2 linked regions of the Homo sapiens genome follow. The protein of the gene in region 2 interacts with the protein of the main gene of each other region in a biochemical or structural test. Each region holds a gene or a part of one and is shown on either strand. Other genes may lie near its edges.

The links.
Region 1: the proteins of SH3YL1 (region 2) and SH3D19 form a complex in vitro, tested with the Homo sapiens proteins (one study listed by BioGRID).

The regions. Positions count from the first base shown.
Region 1 is NC_000004.12:151,126,080-151,134,745, reverse strand, and holds part of SH3D19 (SH3 domain-containing protein 19), read left to right. Parts: intron 1-1,509; coding exon 1,510-1,712; intron 1,713-2,362; coding exon 2,363-2,415; intron 2,416-6,389; coding exon 6,390-6,576; intron 6,577-7,030; coding exon 7,031-7,128; intron 7,129-8,666. UniProt on the Homo sapiens protein: May play a role in regulating A disintegrin and metalloproteases (ADAMs) in the signaling of EGFR-ligand shedding. May be involved in suppression of Ras-induced cellular transformation and Ras-mediated activation of ELK1.
Region 2 is NC_000002.12:253,304-261,969, reverse strand, and holds part of SH3YL1 (SH3 domain-containing YSC84-like protein 1), read left to right. Parts: intron 1-839; exon of another isoform or gene 840-1,885; intron 1,886-5,629; exon of another isoform or gene 5,630-5,763; intron 5,764-8,666.

The DNA of each region.
Region 1 (8,666 bases), on a different chromosome or scaffold from region 2:
AAAATACATCATGAACCTGCTGATAGAAGCTTACCTAAGCAACTCTCCAACATCAGTGCAGGACATAAAGAAAGCAGCAAAGACAGTCTATGCCAGTGCTTCCTGCAGCCTGGTCTCAGCATGAGCAGAGATAGTTTCATCATTTACTGCATTTTATTTTGGCCATCTGGTGTTCACCCAGTTTTTAGAAGGTTCAAGTATTTTTGTCATGAGAAATAATTAAATCCTATAGAAATATGAATCCTACAATAACTGCTAGACATTTTGTATGTTTTTGTTTTTAAGAGGAACTAGAAGAAAGTGAAGGAAGAGTTAAGTTGAAGGGGTTTTCCTTTATCTCTGAGGACGTTTCCCTGAATTTATATACCCTTTTATGTGTCATTGTAACTCCTTTGTGATTTAAAGCACTGCCACAATGCAACTTTATATTCTAGTTAAATGAGCAAATTAATAGAATTCATTACCTGCTGAAGACTGTAAACCTGTCTATGAATAGGTCAGACATAAGCAGATGCTCCCAGAGGACTTTAGAAAACAAATGCAAAGGTTATCACAAATAAGAAAACTTCTGATCCACAATAGTTGAATTCTATTTCAGATTCAGTTTTTCTCTATTTTTAAGCAGCATATACTGTGTCTCAGCAGGTTGAATTCGAAGTGGGCTTTTACAGTCATTGACCCATTGATCTGACTTAAATCAGAATTCTATTAAAGCTAGAATCAACCTTTTCTTTTTAGGCAATTGCTTCTCCTTAGCCTGTTGCTATTGAAACTTCCTTTCTAAACCCTCAAATCTAGGGATTAGTATTAAAGCACACCTTCTAGAGACACAATTTTATCTCTGCTTTTATCTTATTTTCAGTCAAAATTGCAGATCATGTAAGGATTGTTCCAAATGTCAGAAATGAAGCCCTTTTAAAGGAGATTAAAAAAATCATTTTTAAAGGCAACAGGGTTAGTTCCAAGACTGTGTGTTATGATATGCCAAGTTTCTGTTTTCTTTAAACCTCCTAGTTTTTAAGGCCAGCTCACTGATTAATTGAGCATCTATTGAACATCAACTTTGCCCAGCTGATGCCCATTGCATTCTGCCCTGATTAGTAGTCAGAAAATTTGATTAATTGCCCTGAGATTCTCAGGGTTAGCACTCCTCAACTCAGTGCATTTATGATTGGAAGGGTTCAGACTGGACCACGGATTGCTGTGGCCCAAGGATACAAACATACGGAGACTGGGGAGTAAGAAGATCAAAAGACACAGCAGGGTAAACTAACCACCCAGCTGCGTGCACTCCGCGACCTTGAGCTTCAGCCTTTCTGAGTGAATAGGTTCATATCTGTTACTTAAAAGTGTAACTTACTCTTTTTCATGGAATAATTTCAAATTAGCCTAGTATACCTTATTCCATGGTAAACCCAGAATAAATATTTATTGAAAGACTGAATGAAGGTTTTTAAGCATTTTAAAAGCACTCTCTAGTCTAATCCACAAAATGTGTTCTTCATTCAGAGGCTCAAGATGTGTTGCTCGGTTTGAATATATTGGAGAGCAGAAGGATGAGTTGAGTTTCTCAGAGGGAGAAATTATTATTCTTAAAGAGTATGTGAATGAGGAATGGGCCAGAGGAGAAGTTCGAGGCAGAACTGGGATTTTCCCCCTGAACTTTGTGGAGCCTGTTGAGGATTATCCCACCTCTGGTGCAAATGTTTTAAGTGAGTATAGAGAATTTTTTTTATTATGTTATGTCCTAATTCAAATAAACCAAATAATATCATTATACTTAAGCTGTATAATAATCCATATTGCCATATTTTTACGGTAGAAGGAAAACTGATTTTAAAATGGGAATTTGTGTGGGATAGACATTATTTGTGGGCATCTCTCAAAGAGCTGGTTTTGGTATTTTAGGTAATTAGCAATAGCTTCATATAAGAAATGGCAAAGAGGCTGGGTATGATGGCTCAGACCTGTAATTCCAACACTTTGAGAGGCCACGGTGGGCGGATTGCCTGAGACCAGGAGTTCAAGGCTGCAGTGAGCTATGATTGTACCACTGCACTCCAGCCTGGGCAACAGAGCCAGACTCTGTATCTAATAAATAAATAGCAAAGACTTTTAAACAGAAATGAACTATAGACTGTTACTAATGTATATAGACTATAAATAGTTGTGTTTACAATTAACTAAACAAGCTCAGTGAAGTTAGTACAGGTTAACGCAACATAGACAATACATGAAGAGACCGGAGTGGAATCCCAGAGTCTTCACTCCCACCTCCCACCTCAACCATTTGTTTTTAATACTATGTGGCCTTCACATCTAATGTTCTGACTTCTTGTGTTTGTTTGTTTTTTTAATGTAGGCACAAAGGTACCACTGAAAACCAAAAAAGAAGATTCTGGCTCAAACTCTCAGGTAGGCTGCTTGAACAGATGACTATAGTGACAGCCAGGTTCAGACTCTGGGAGGAATATTAAAATCATAATTTTCAAGAGAATATAGTATGAATTAATTTTTCAATTCATACAACAAATGTTTGTAATAAATTCTTAGATGGTTAATATATTTTATATAGAGAGCTCATACAAAAACATGTAAACCCTGATAGAAAATGAAAACAGAGACTGGGCAGAGTGGCTCATGCCTGTAATCCCAACACTTTGGGAAGCCAAGGCAGGTGGATTACCTGAGGTTAGGAGTTCGAGACCAGCCTGGCCAACATGGTGAAACCCTGTCTCTACTAAAAATACAAAAATTAACCAGGCATGGTGGCGTGCACCTGTAGTCCCAGCTACTTGGAAGGCTGAAGCAGGAAAATAGCTTGAACCTGGCGGTGGAGGTTGCAGTGAGCCAAGATAGCACCACTGCATTCCAGCCTGGGTGGCAGTGCGAGACTCTATCTCAAAAAAGAAAGAAAGAAAATGATAAAAGAGACATGATTAGAGAATTCATAAAAGAGGCTGTGCGCGGTGGCTCATGCCTGTAATCCCAGCACTTTGGGAAGCCGAGGCGGGCGGATCATGAGGTCAGGGGATCGAGACCACCCTGGCTAACACGGTGAAACCCCGTCTCTACTAAAAATACAAAAAAAATCAGCCGGGTGTGGTGACCAGCGCGCGTATTCCCAGCTACTCAGGAGGCTGAGGCAGGGGAATGGCGTGAACCCGGGGGGCAGAGTTTGCAGTGAGCCAAGATTGCGCCACTGCACTCCCGCCTGGGAGACAGAGCAAGACTCTGCCTCAAAAAAAAAGAAAAAAAGAAAAAAAGAATTCATAAAAGAGATACCATAAGTGGCTAATATTGAAAAAATATTTAACCTTTCTAATAATCAAGAAAATATATAATAAAGCAGCAATAAAATACCATTTAACCTATTCAGTTAACAAAGATTCAGTGCAGCTCAGCACTAAACAAGCAATTATAAGCATGTGAGTGTTAAAAAAAAAAGAGAGAAAGTACACATTCTTATTTGTCACCCTAAGAAAAGGATAAAAAATGAGATAGGGTTTTAGTCACAAAGATGAGCATAGTGCTAATATAATAAGAAAAAATTGGAAACAACCTAAATATGACCATTATTGGGAGAATATTCTAAAGCTATGAAAAACTAGATTTATCAAATAAAATAATGTTTTTAAATGTCATGAGAGGAAACATAGGGAAAGGGGATATAAAATTGAATATATAGCATAAAAAGACTGGAAGGAAATTATTCAAGTTACTAGTATTAAATTGCATCTAGGTAGTGAGATTATATATACGGGTAGGTTTTTTTCCCCCACTTCTTTTTTTTTTTTCTTTTTTTTGAGACGGAGTCTTACTCCGTCGCCCAGGCTGGAGTGCAGTGGCGCAGTCTTGGCTCACTGCAACCTCTGCTGCCGGCTTCAAGTGATTCTCCTGACTCAACCTCCTGAGTAAGCTGGGTTTACAGGTGCCTGCCACTGTGCTTCGCTAATTTTTGTAGTTTTAGCAGAAACGGGGTTTTACCGTCTTGGCCAGGCTGGTCTTGAACTCCTGACCTCGTGATCCACCCACCTCGGCCTCCCTAAGTGCTGGGATTACTGGCATGAGCCACTGCGCCTGGCCTTCTCCATTTCTTTATACGTTTCTCAACTTTCCAAATATTTAGGAACATTTGTTTCATTTGTATAATGAGAAAGAGAAAAATAGTGGGTTAAAATTTTTACACTGTTCAGCATGACCCCAGAAATGCTTAAAGGTACTAGGAATGTGGTGCCTTCTGTTGTTTTTAGTTTTTTGTTGTTTTTGGTTTTATTTTGGTTTTTTTGTTTTGTTTTGTTTTGTTTTTTTGAGACAGGATCTCACTCTGATGCCCAGGCTAAGTGCAGTGTCGAGGTCTCAGCTCACTGCAACCTCTGCTTCCCAGGCTCAAGCAATCCACCTCAGCCTCCTAAGTAGCTGGGATGACAGGCACACACCACCACTCCCAGCTAATTTTTGTATTTTTTGTAGACAGGGTCTCATTTTGTTGCCCAGGCTGGTCTCAAAATCCTGGGCTCAAGCGCTCCACCTGCCTCAGCCTCCCAAGGTACTAGGATTACAGGGGTGATCCACCACATCCGGCCTTCCATTGTTTTTTGTGACAAATTTAGAAGAGTTAAGCCTGATGGGATCATTGTGTTTGTGAAAATGTCACTTGTAATTGGCCTGTGTGTCCCTTAATTCTTTATCCCTACCCACTGATAAAGTGAAACAGGAAGGAAACTGACTACAGTTCTCCAAAAGGAAATGTTCACATGGTTGTTGCCTGCATTTTTGGAGAATGATAAGTTCCATCCTTTAGGGTTGGTTACTCAAGTGCAGGAGCAAGAGGGGGTTAGTGTTGTTTGCTTGCTTTTTGTTTTTGTTTTATAAGCCATCAGTTATTGAGCACTTAAGATGTGCCAGGCACTGGGCTAAATGTTAGACATGCATTGTCTCATTTAATCCTCTTAGTAACCCCAAGATGAAGCTGAGCCTCAGAGAAGAGAAGCGTCTTGCCCAGTGTCACGAAGTTAAGAAGTGGCAGAACTGGGTCTGGAAACCTTGCCTGTGTAGCTCCAAAGCCTTTGTCCCGGCCAGGCGCTGAGGCTCACTCCTGTAATCCCAGCACCTTGGGAGGCCAAGGCAGGTGGATCGCTTCAGGCCAGGAGTTCGAGACCAGCCTGGCCAACATGGTGAAACCCCGTCTCTACTAAAAATACAAAAATTAGCTGGGTGTGGTGGTGTGCACCTGTAGTCCTAGCTAATCGGGAGGCTGAGGCAGGAGAATTGCTTGAACCCGGGAGGCAGAGGTTGCATTGAGCCAAGATTGCATCATTGCCCTTCAGCCTGGGCAACAGAGCGAGACTCCATCTCGAAAGAAAAAAGCCTTTTCATTATCCTCTACTGCCTTCTTGAGCCTCTTGAACATAGGGTTCCCATCCCAAATTGGCAGAGCTGCCTCTTCACAGAGCAAAACCTTTCTCTAATGTGCCTGGGATAAAAGTGTTCTTACACTAGCCCACCACATCTGGGTGTTATCCTGCCAATCTTAGAGTTAACTACAGCTCATAAAATTAAAAGTGTGAATTGATGAAGTTCTGTGCTATGGACTCTAATTGTCTCTGAATCAAGTAAAGACCTGGGAATTCATAGACCAACCCATTCTGATCCTTCCTAATTTAAATAAAGAAGAGCTTCACTGATAATTACATACTTTATCAGAATTTTTTCATAGTGTCAAATACTATGCATAAATATTTTATGCTTTTACCTAATTCTTTAATATAACAATATAATAGGTCATATTAAGAAAAAAGTTTTTTGGCTGAGTGAGGTGGATCATGCCTGTAATCCCAGAAGTTTGGGAGGGTGGGAGGATCACTTGAGCCAAGAGTTCAAGACCAGCCTGGGCAACATAGTGAGACTTCATTTCTGCAAAAATAAAATAAAATTAAATAGCCGAGTGTGGTGGCTGCACCTGTAGTCCCAGCTACTCGGGAGGCTGAGGAGGGAGGATTGCCTGAGCCCAGGAAGTCAAGGCTGCAGTGAGCTATGATTCTGCCACTGTACTCCATCCTGGGTTACTAAGTAAGAACTTGGCTCAGAAAAGAAAATAAAGAAAGTAAAAAAGTGTTTGCTTAAGCTTTGTATATCCCTTAAAAGCAGAAAAGCCACAAATTCTATCACACTTGTCATTTAGAGTTATAATTTAAGAAAAAATTATTGGAAACTTTTACTTCTGAAACTTGATAGCAACATAAAGTATTAGATAATTTAAAGAAGCCTTCAGGCTTTGAAATCTTAAGACCCCTTAGTTTTTTTTTCCCCACTACTTTTTAAGCTTTGTAGAACTCAATTTCAAATAAAATCTTACACTTCTGACCACACCTCTAATTTGATAACAGGTTAACAGTCTTCCGGCAGAATGGTGTGAAGCTCTTCACAGTTTTACAGCAGAGACCAGTGATGACTTATCATTCAAGAGGGGAGACCGGATCCAGATTCTGGAACGTCTGGATTCTGACTGGTGCAGGGGCAGACTGCAGGACAGGGAGGGGATCTTCCCAGCAGTGTTTGTGAGGCCCTGCCCAGGTATGACAACCGCAAGACATGAATGCGACTCCTCACGGGGAGCCTGAAACCTTCAAAACTATATACATTCCTTTCCCCTCTGGCCATGCTCAGTTTGTCTGTCTATATTTGAAAGAGCTGATACATGAAGTTATGCAAACTTCATTCATATGCTTTGTTAGAGTTATAGAAAAAAAAGATAATGTCTTCACTAAATAATGGCTAATTCCATCTAATAAATATAGTTTACGTAATTTTTCCCTGCTAAAAGAACATTGTTCATCTTTTTGAAAGTTAAATAAGTTCAAAATTAATTGAACATGTTTTTAAAAATGTTTTTCTTTGCCTAATATCACTACCTCTGAAGAGAAGATACTGTGTTTTTAGAGCGATAAGCGTTTTTTTTTAAAAAATGTTAGATTTGTGTTTTAGTCCACTGTGTTTCTATATATTTAAATTTTTTATGTCTTCACAGCTGAGGCAAAAAGTATGTTGGCCATAGTACCGAAGGGGAGGAAGGCCAAAGCCTTATATGATTTCCGAGGGGAGAATGAAGATGAACTTTCCTTCAAGGTCAGAATGTGTATCTCTTCATAACTGCATTAAGCACTATAATTTTTTAAATGTTTTCCATTGAAGGATGGAACATTTGGGTGGAATATTAATCATTACTCAAGAATGAAGAGATCTCAGGCCCTGATTCTAGGGGAAGACATTAGAGAAAGTGAACAGTGCAAATAGGCCTGTTAATTTACAGTATCAACCAGGCATTAATGTACTTAGAGAAAACCTTGGCTTTACACCCCCATACATCCCCAAAGTAATCCCTGTTCCTTGGTCTTAGGTCATCAGATCTCAGTAATATTAGGGTTTTTATTAGTAGCCCTGGTAACAGATGACTGTCTACATGGCCCTGCAAGCCTGCCATTGATGTGTCTTTGAAATTGATGGAGAATCAGATAGCACCTGCTACAATTTGCACTAGTAGCATAGTAGCCTCATAAGACACTAAATTCCTTTGGGAGGCCGAGGTGGGGGGATCACGAGGTCAGGAGATCGAGACCATCCTGGCTAACACGGTGAAACCCCGTCTCTACTAAAAAATACAAAAAAATTAGCTGGGCATGGTGGCAGGCGCCTGTAATCCCAGCTACTGAGGAGGCTGAGGCAGGAGAATGGCATGAACCCGGGAGGTGGAGCTTGCAGTGAGCCGAGATTGCACCACTGCACTCTTGTCCACAAAGGCAATGACCAGAGGTTTGGGGAAATAGTCCCAAAAGGTTGAGCTAGTTTGCAAAGGTTTTTTTTTTTTTTTTTTTCACCGAAGAAATGCCTAATTTCTTCTTAAAGTAAAAGTAGATATTTTCTTTTCTTTTTTTTTTTTTTCTTTTTTGAGACAGAGTCTCGCTCTGTCACCCAGGCTGGAGTGCAGTGGGGCGATCTCGGCTCACTGCAAGCTCCACCTCCCGGTTCACGCCATTCTCCTGCCTCAGCCTCCCGAGTAGCTGGGACTACAGGTGCCCGCCACCATGCCCAGCTAATTTTTTTGTATTTTTTTTAGTAGAGACGAGGTTTCACCATGTTAGTGAAGATGGTCTTGATCTCCTGACCTGGTGATCCGCCCACCTCAGCCTCCAAAAGTGCTGGGATTACAGGCGTGAGCCACCGCGCCCGGCCAAAAGTAGATATTTTCATGATTCTATTTCCCTAATCCACAACTGGACCATAGTCAGAGGAAAGCACTTTGGGAACAGTGCTAGAAGAAGGAGGGTGGTTTTAGTAGTCACTGCTGTCAAAATAGCCTGTGTCAGGCAGTGGTAAATTCTCTGTCATTGAAGATATTCAGTCAGAGGAAAGGATGCCATAGAAAGAATTAACATATCAAGGAATGATTGGACAAGGTGTGGTTTAAAACAGTGGACAACCAAACAGGGTTTTCACTTGTCTGCAACAAGATGAGAAAAAGGCCGAGCAACAGTGGCTCACACCTCTAATCCCAACACTTTTGGGAAGTCAAGGCAGGAGGATCGCTTGAGGCCAGGAGTTTAAAACCAGCCTGGTCAACATGGCAAGACCCCATCTCAACAAAGAAAAAGAGGAAAACAAGGCAA
Region 2 (8,666 bases):
TTTCACATAAAGTATAAGGTTTAATAATTTGATTAATATGTAATCAGTAAGAACTTGGAAAACCAAATTTAGTAAGCTTGCTTTCCTGTAAGTATTCCTTTCATAATTAGAGTCCATTGAAGAAAATAATATAAGGGAAGCAAAAGTTTGGGAATCTGAACTCTGGTAAGGAAAGTGGTGGAGAGGGGCCCTTGGGTCTTCTTGCTTTCATTCCTGACCCTCCGTGTACAACTAGATTGGAAACCGTAGTCAGCTTTGTCACCTCAGGTGGCAATTTACTCCGAGTAGGATTCTCATGTCCCTGTTTGTCCCCAGTGACTCTAGCATTGAGTTTATAGAACTGCGATCAATACCTAAAATTATTTCCAGATCTTAAGCTGATTTATGCTTTTGAGGTTTCCAAAGTAAAAATTGTCTTTCCGGTATTTTATAAGACCTTCTAATTTAAAAAAAAAATGTGTTACTATGAAAATTTAAAACATTTTAACTTTTGTTTTAAAGAAAACTTTATTTGAAAGTTTCTTAGCTTGAGGTTTGGCAGCCACTCTTTTTTTAGAAAAAACTTAAATATTTATAGAGATTTTGCCTGATTCAAGGGACTTAAGACGTTTATGAGAGTGCAGATGCTAACCATGATGTGAGGTTTAAGAGGCTTCATTAGTAATGACCTGTGTCTTCATCAGTATGATAGAATGGGACATCAGCACTCTGATCAGGTCATGCTCTATATGCCTTATGGTACAGCAGAGGAAAAATGGGTGAGCCATCATTTGATGCTGAGGATGGGATTTGAGGCTTATGTCTAAATTTTTATTTGCATATTCTTTTTGTTCTGACAGAGAAATTCACTGCATGTAACTATGACCACGCATGATTTTATCAGAAGTTGATTAGAATCTGTAACATTTTCTGTAGTTCAGCTGACACACTGAAGATGTCCTCACTGTGACCAGCCTTGTCAACAGCTGGATCACAGTGACATAAGCTGTGTCTAGGATGAGTCTTGCGGTCTGCAGCCGTGTGAGGCTGCATCTGATTCCCAAGTCCAATGGCTCTCTTCCCGTGTTTACAGATCAGGCCATGACCTTTCCCTACAGCAGGATGTTTGCAAGATTAACTCTCAACTGAGGAATTTGCTTATTTGCTCTAATACTGCTTGGTTGAGAGAGTTCAAAGTAGAAAGTCTTCTGAGGGGATAAGATTCATGTATTATTTACAGTGCTTCAGTTGCATGTATCAGAAAATCTAGTCTAAATTGCTTTAACAGAAAAAGATGTTGCTGGTCCATTTGACGAAGAAGTCCAGAGCGGCTTGTGACTTCAGTCTGGCTTTGCAGAGCCCAGGTGCTCTCTCCACCTTCTGCCAGGTTCCCCTATGAAGGCTTTGCTCTCAGACTCTCCCCTTGTGGAGACAAAAATCCCACAGCAAGTGGAAACAGAAGTGCCTTGGAAAAAGTTATTCTGGCAGCTCCTATACAAGTCCCCCATCAGATGCTGGTATTGGACCAGCTTTGGTTATAAAGCCCTGCTGTGGCACCAAAAGGAATGTCGTCCTGATACAGCAGCCTCGGGTCACCCAATCCACTCCAGATACTATGGCTGCAGCATCAATGTAAGCAGACAAGTTGTGCTGCCTCTGAAATAAAGTAGATGAAATATTCAGCAGCAGAAAGAACAAGTTTCCACTCCAGTGAACTAATTCAAATGTATCCAGCATCTAGATATATGTATAAATGTAATTAAAACATATTGAGCATCTAGAGCATCTCTCCCAAGATAATTACCACCTGATAGTAATGGCTATAAAAGCTAAAAGTGGAATCAGTCTACATGTTTCGCAATAGGAATCAATTGAAGCATACATCAAAATGCAGACAGTAGTATTGGTGAGTATTAATGTTATAGATGCTTTTTATCCTTCATATTTTCATATCTGTACTTTTTCCTGTATTTTACAATGTATTTGTACGTTGTACAAATAATTGCTGATCATGTAAAAATATAGAAATATAGAAATTTTGTTGCCATACTTGGGTCTTTTCCACTATGAAATTGAAAAAAAATTCTATAATTCCTGGTTCTTTTATAATTTGATATTTGACACTCTAAATCTTCAATGAATTTGGAGTTTATCTTTCTGTAACACAAAGCTGTGAATGAATTTTTGTTTTTCTCCCCAAATGAACATTATCTAGTATGCAATACATCATTTCAACATAGAATTGAGGTGTCATTTTTATTATATACTAAATTTGTAAATATATTTGGGTTAATTTCTGAATTTTCTTCTTTGTGAATTGATTTTTCTCCTATATTTGCATCTGCTATTATGTATTAATTATTGAGGCTTTGTAATGTGTCACAGGTTCTGTCAAGGCTGGGCTGTCATTGTTCTCCTATTACATATTTTTTCCTAGCTCTTCTTGCTTGTTTATTTTCCCATTTGAACTTCAAAATTACTGTGTTTTATTAAAAGACCCTTGTAAGATAGAAGACAGATTTGATTTCATTAAGAAAAAACAGAAAAAAAAGCAAATTCAAAAGACAAGTAACAGAGAGTCAATGTTTTTAACTCATATTCCAAAAAAATATTAATTTTTAATGTATAAATTAATAAGAAACAGAGAGAAACCCCCTGTAAATAACAAGGTGCATGAGAAACCTTTGATAGAGAGAGTGAAATGTGGTCAGCATTGCTCATCATAAAAGAACAAATGGAAAATGCACTGAGAGCTACTGGCCAGGGCAGCGAAATGGCTCCTGCTACTCACACATGGTAAACAGCTAGGAAACTGGACAGCTGTGTGTAGAGCACTTTTTGCACATGGTGGACATGTCTGAGATCCACAAGATAAGGGGAACAGGAGGTGAACTCCATTAGTGACCGTTTTCTGCCTGGAGCACTTCCTAAACTGCAGGACAAGGAGGGGGCACCCAGAGCCCAGGCTCCTGCTTAAAAGAAGAGGCAGAAATTGAGTCTGAAGAGGCTGAGGTAACTGGAATTTGCAGAGCATGTTACTAGCAATGAGGGACGGCTGAGAGAAAGAGCTCCAGAAATCTGCAGAGGGATCCCCCTGAGCCTTCTGCTGAATATTAAGTGCTAGCTGTGTAGGGTGAAATTTGCAAAGCAGGCAAGAACAACTGCCATGAAGCTTTGAGGTGAACTATTCACAGTGCTTGCATCAGGCTGGGGACAGCCATTCGAAACAGCCACAATGGAGACAGCTTATTAAACAACCAGGGCACCCAGGAGAGAGCCCAGAAGGGACACACCTTGATGGATAAAATAGTTCTAAAGGCTACTCTAGACACACAAACAGAACACAACAACAAGCCAACAAGTGATCAAGCTGATCTACAAGTAACTCACTGCCTGCTAACACAAGTGTTAACACTTTTAAGGGAAGCAATGAAATCTAGGCACTCAACATGGTAATATCTACAATCCTGTTTTACTAGAAAGGAGTAAAAACAGGAAAACATAACCCATAGCTGGAAGAAGAATCAGTCAAAAACAGATCGAGAAATGGCAGATTATACAATTTAAAACACCTATTTTACACAAAAAGAATAAAATACCTAAGAATACAGCTAACCAAGGAGGTGAAAGATCTCTACAACAAGAATTACAAAGCACTGCTGAAAGAAATCAGAGATGGCACAAACATGGAAAAACATTCCTTGTTCAAGGATAGGAAGAATCAACATTATTAAAATTGCCATACTGCCTAGAGCAATTTATAGATTCAATACTATTCCTATTATACTACCAATATCATTCTTCACAGAATTAGAAAACAAAACTATTTTAAAATTCATATGGAACCAAGAAAGAGCCCAAATAGCCAAGGCAATCCTAAGCAAAAAGAACAGCTGGAGGAATCATGCTACCCGACTTCAAACTATACTACAAAGCTACAGTAATGAAAACAGCATGGTAATGGTACAAAAACAGACTCATAGAACAATGAACAGAATCGAGAGCCCAGAATTCATGCTACACAGCTACAATCATCTGATATTTGACAAAGTCAACAAAAATAAGCAATGGGGAAAGGACTCCATATTCAATAAATGGTGCTGGAATACCTGGCCAGCCATACACAGAAGACTGAAACAGGACCCCTTCCTTATACCATATGCAAAAAAACAATTCAAGATGGATTAAAGACTTGAATGTTGTTAAAAACTTAAGCCAAATTAAATTTTAAGGAGTTTAATTGAGCAATGAATGATATGCAAGTCGGGCAGCCCCCAGAATCACAGCAGATTCAGAGAGACTCCAGGGATGCCTCGTGGTCAGAACAAATTTATAGACCAAAAAAGGGGAAGTGACGTACAGAAATCAGAAATGAAGTACAGAAACAACTGGATTGGTTACAGCTCATCATTTTCCTTATGTGAACACTTAGCAGTGTATGAGTGGTTGAAGTATGGCTGCTGGGATTGGCCAAGACTGAGCTATTGTTACAGATGCATACTCCTAAGTTAAGTTCTCAATCTTGTCTACATATTAAGTTAGGTGGCAGTTCATCTACAAGGACTCAAATATTGAAGTATGGAGTTCTTCTCAGGTCACATTTAGCCTGTTTTAACAATGTAAAACCTAAAGCTGTAAAAACTCTGGAAGATAAGCTAGGAAATTCCATTGTGGACATAATCGCTGGCAAAGATTTTATGATAAAGATGCCAAAAGCAATTACAACAAAAACAAAAATTGACAAATGGGACCTACTTAAACTAAAGAGCTTCTGAACAGCAAAAGAAACTATCAACAGAGAAAACAACCTACAGAATAGAAGAAAATATTTGTAAGCTCTACATCCAACAAAGGCCTAATATTCAGAATCTATAAGAAATTTAAACAAATTAACAAGCAAAAAAACAACTCCGTTAAAGTATAATAATAATAATAAGTGGTTAAAGGACGTGGACAAAAGATTTAAGCAGACACTTTACAAGATATAGAAATAGGAAAAAGTGTTCAACATCATTAGTCATCTGAGAAACGAAAATTAAATCCACAGTGAAAGGCCACTGTGTACCACTAAAATAACTAAAATTTTAAAAACTGGACATTGCAAGTGTTGGTGAGGATATGGAATAACCAGAACTCTTATAAAAGTTTCTGGTGGAAGCCTGAAATGTGTAATCACTTTAGAGAACTCTTAGGTGGCTCCTTACATTGTTAAATACACATTTACCACATGAACTGGCAATTCCTATCCTAGGTAATTACCCAAGAGAAATAAAACATTTTTTCTTTTTCTTTTTTTTGAGATGGAGTTTCGTTCTTGCTGCCCAAGCTGGAGTGCAATGGCGCCATCTCGGCTCACTGCAACCTCCACCTTCCAGGTTCAAGTGATTCTCCTGCCTCAGGCTCCTGAGTAGCTGGGATTACAGGCGCACGTCACCACATCTGGCTAATTTTTTGTATTTTTAGTAGAAATGGGGTTTCACCATGTTAGCCAGGCTGGTCTTGAACTCCTGACCTCAGGTGATCCCCCCACCTCGGCCTCCCAAATTGCTGGGATTACAGGTGTGAGCCACCGTGTCCGGCCATAAAACATTTTTTTACAAAAGGCTTACAAAGGAATATTTATAGCAGTTTTATTTGTAATAGCCAAAAGCTGGAAACAACCCAATTGTCTATCAACAGTGACTGGAAGGACAAATTGTGCTATGTCCACACATTAGAATACCAGTTGGCAGTCAAAAAGGAAGAGCTGATCTGTGCAGCAATTTGAGTCTCAGTAATTTCATGGTGAGTAAAATAAGCTAGACAGAAAAGAACACACACTGATGACTATATGAAGTTCTGGCACAGACAAAATTCATACTTAATGACAGAAATCAGATTGGCACTAACCTGAGGCAGGGGCTGGGTATAGGAGTGACCACTACAGAGGGCACGGATGCTGTGATCAGGAGTGGTCTCTACCTCTGTCCATGCACACTGAGCTATACCTGTAACAGGTAGATTTCATTTTGTAAATTGTATCTCATGAAGTTGATTTGAAAAGCCTACACTGAGAGGCAGTATTTTAACTATTCTGAGATAACATTGATTAAAAAATGCAACATGCCAAAATACACTAATGCTGTGATGCCACTTGTTTTTAAAAGGAGTAAAGAGCTACACACATGCATCATGCACACTTAATTTTGCATAAAGTATCTGTGGAAATACCTTCCTCTATCTGACTTAATACCATTGATGAATCTTGGGATGGATTTTTTTCCTGGTCTGGATCTTGTTAATACTCCTGTGTTGAGCCACAAAGAACTGATACTGACATCTTTTAAAGAAATTTAAATAGAACTCCAAAATGACCCTAAGTCAGTTTTCACTTTTTAAAATTTTATTTTATTTTGAGGCAGGGCTTTGCCCTGTTGCCCAGGCTGGAGTGCAGTAGCCCAGTCATAGCTCACTGCAGCCTTGATCTCCTGAGTTCAAGTGATCTTCCTGCCTCCGCCTCCTGGGTAGCAAGGACTTCAGCAAGGACCATGACTGGCTAATTTTTTAAATCATTTTATTGGTAGAGATGGGGGTCTCACTATGTTGCCCAGGCTGGTCTCGAACTCCTGGCCTCAAGTGATCCTCCTCCCTTGGCCTCCCAAAGTGCTGGGAGTACCCAGCCAGTTTTCACTTTTAAGATAAATTACATGTTTCAAACATTCCAGGCACCAAAATATATCACATTTTATTGGAGATATTTATATTTTGCTGAATAAAAGAAAGGGATTTTTTTCTCTGCTGTTTCAGCATTTGATCTGTCGAAAGAATAAACCATGAGTTTATACATGAGCTCTGACACAGGTTTTAATCAATTTTAAAAGTTTATTTTGTCAAGGTTAAGGACAGCCCATGACACAGCCTCAGGAGGTCCTGATGACGTGCTCAAGGCGATTTGAGTATAGTTTGGTTTTATAAATTTTAGGGAGACATGAGACATCAATCAATATATGTAAGATTGATTAGATCCAGAAAGGCGGGACAACTTGAAGTGGGTAGGGGGCTTCCTGATCATAAATAGATAGAAGACAAACAGTTGCATTCTTTTGAGTGTCTGATTAGCCTTTGTGATTTACAGGAATAGTCACTTAGGCTGTAGTCTGGCTTAGTGAAACAACAGGGCAAAGGAAACAATCAGATATGCATTTGTCTCACGTGAGCAGAGGGATGAGTCTGAGTTCCATCTGTTGTCCACAGGGAATTTCCTTGTGATCAAATTGTGAGGGAGGTGTGTAGCTTCTTACCTTTGTAGCTATCTTTTTAGGAATAAAATGGGAGGCAGGTTTGCCTCACAGAGTTCCCAGCTTGACTTTTCCCTTGGCTCAGTGATTCTGGGGTCCTGAGATTTATTTTCCTTTTACAAAAGCAAGCTTCCATTAGCGTACTTCATCTCTGTTCTGTAAATTACTGAGGCGAAACAGTGGAAATGAATGCCTTCAACCTTCCAGATCCTGGCATCCTGCAGTCAGTCACGCATGTGCCTCCTAATTGTAGACAGTGAGACAAGAACTTCTCAGCCTCAGGGCACTTGTGGTCCTACACTGAAGCTATTCAGCTTCTTCGCTCTGCTGATCCCTCGTCCAGTAACAAGAGAATAGTCTATCTTCTCGATATACTTCAGAGCTGGAAGAATTATGTGAGCTTTGTTATGACAAGCCCTCTGATGAGTGTATGAATGTCCAGGCAACACTGTAAACGTAAAGTGCCATAGAAATGCAGGCCGGCGTTACTTGTAGGCTCAATTCCCAAGTCTTCCTAGAGTTTTACTCATCAGAAAGTCTACAGGCAGCCAGTTCCAACATTTTTGGCAAGAACAACAAAATATATTAAATTTATACTATATATTATAGATAGTTACAAAATATATTTTTAAATTTTAAATTCTTATTTTAAATTAGTATTGAAGTCTGTTAATTGCAGGAAGAAGATACATAACAGGGAGGTTTGGCCAGGTTTTGTTTAACATCCTTTGGGGCCCAAGGATTTTATAATTTCTGAGATGAGAGTTTAGAGTTTCTGACTCTCAGCATAGATTTGATTTATTAGGAGAAATAGAGATGATACTGTCAATGAGGATTTCCAGTCATTTCCTTTGATAGGCTATGCTGTGGTAATGCTTCATTGTGTTACCAAAAAGGGGTCCCGATCCAGACCCCAAGAAAGGGTTCTTGGACCTGGTGCTAGAAAGAACTCAGGGCAAGTCCATAAAGTAAAAGCAAGTTTATTAAGAAAGTAAAGGAATAAAGAAGGGCTACTCAATAGGTGGAGTAGTGGCATGGGCTGCTCAACTAAGGATACTTACAATTGTTTTTCAATTATATGCTAAACACGGAGTGGATTATTCGTGAGTTTTCTGGAAAAGGGGTGGGCAATTCCCGGAACTGAGAGGTCCTCTCCTTTTTAGACCATATAGGGTAACTTCCTGATGTTGCCATGGCATTTGTAAACTGTCATGGCGCTGGTGGGAGTGTCTTTTGGCAGCTAACGCATTAGAATTAGTGTATAATGAGCAGTGAAGATGACCAGAGGTCACGTTCATTGCCTTCTTGGTTTTGGTGGATTTGGCCAGCTCCTTTACTGCATGCTGTTTTATCAGCAAGGTCTTCGTTACCTGTATCTTGTGCGGACCTCCTGTCTCATCCTGTGACTTG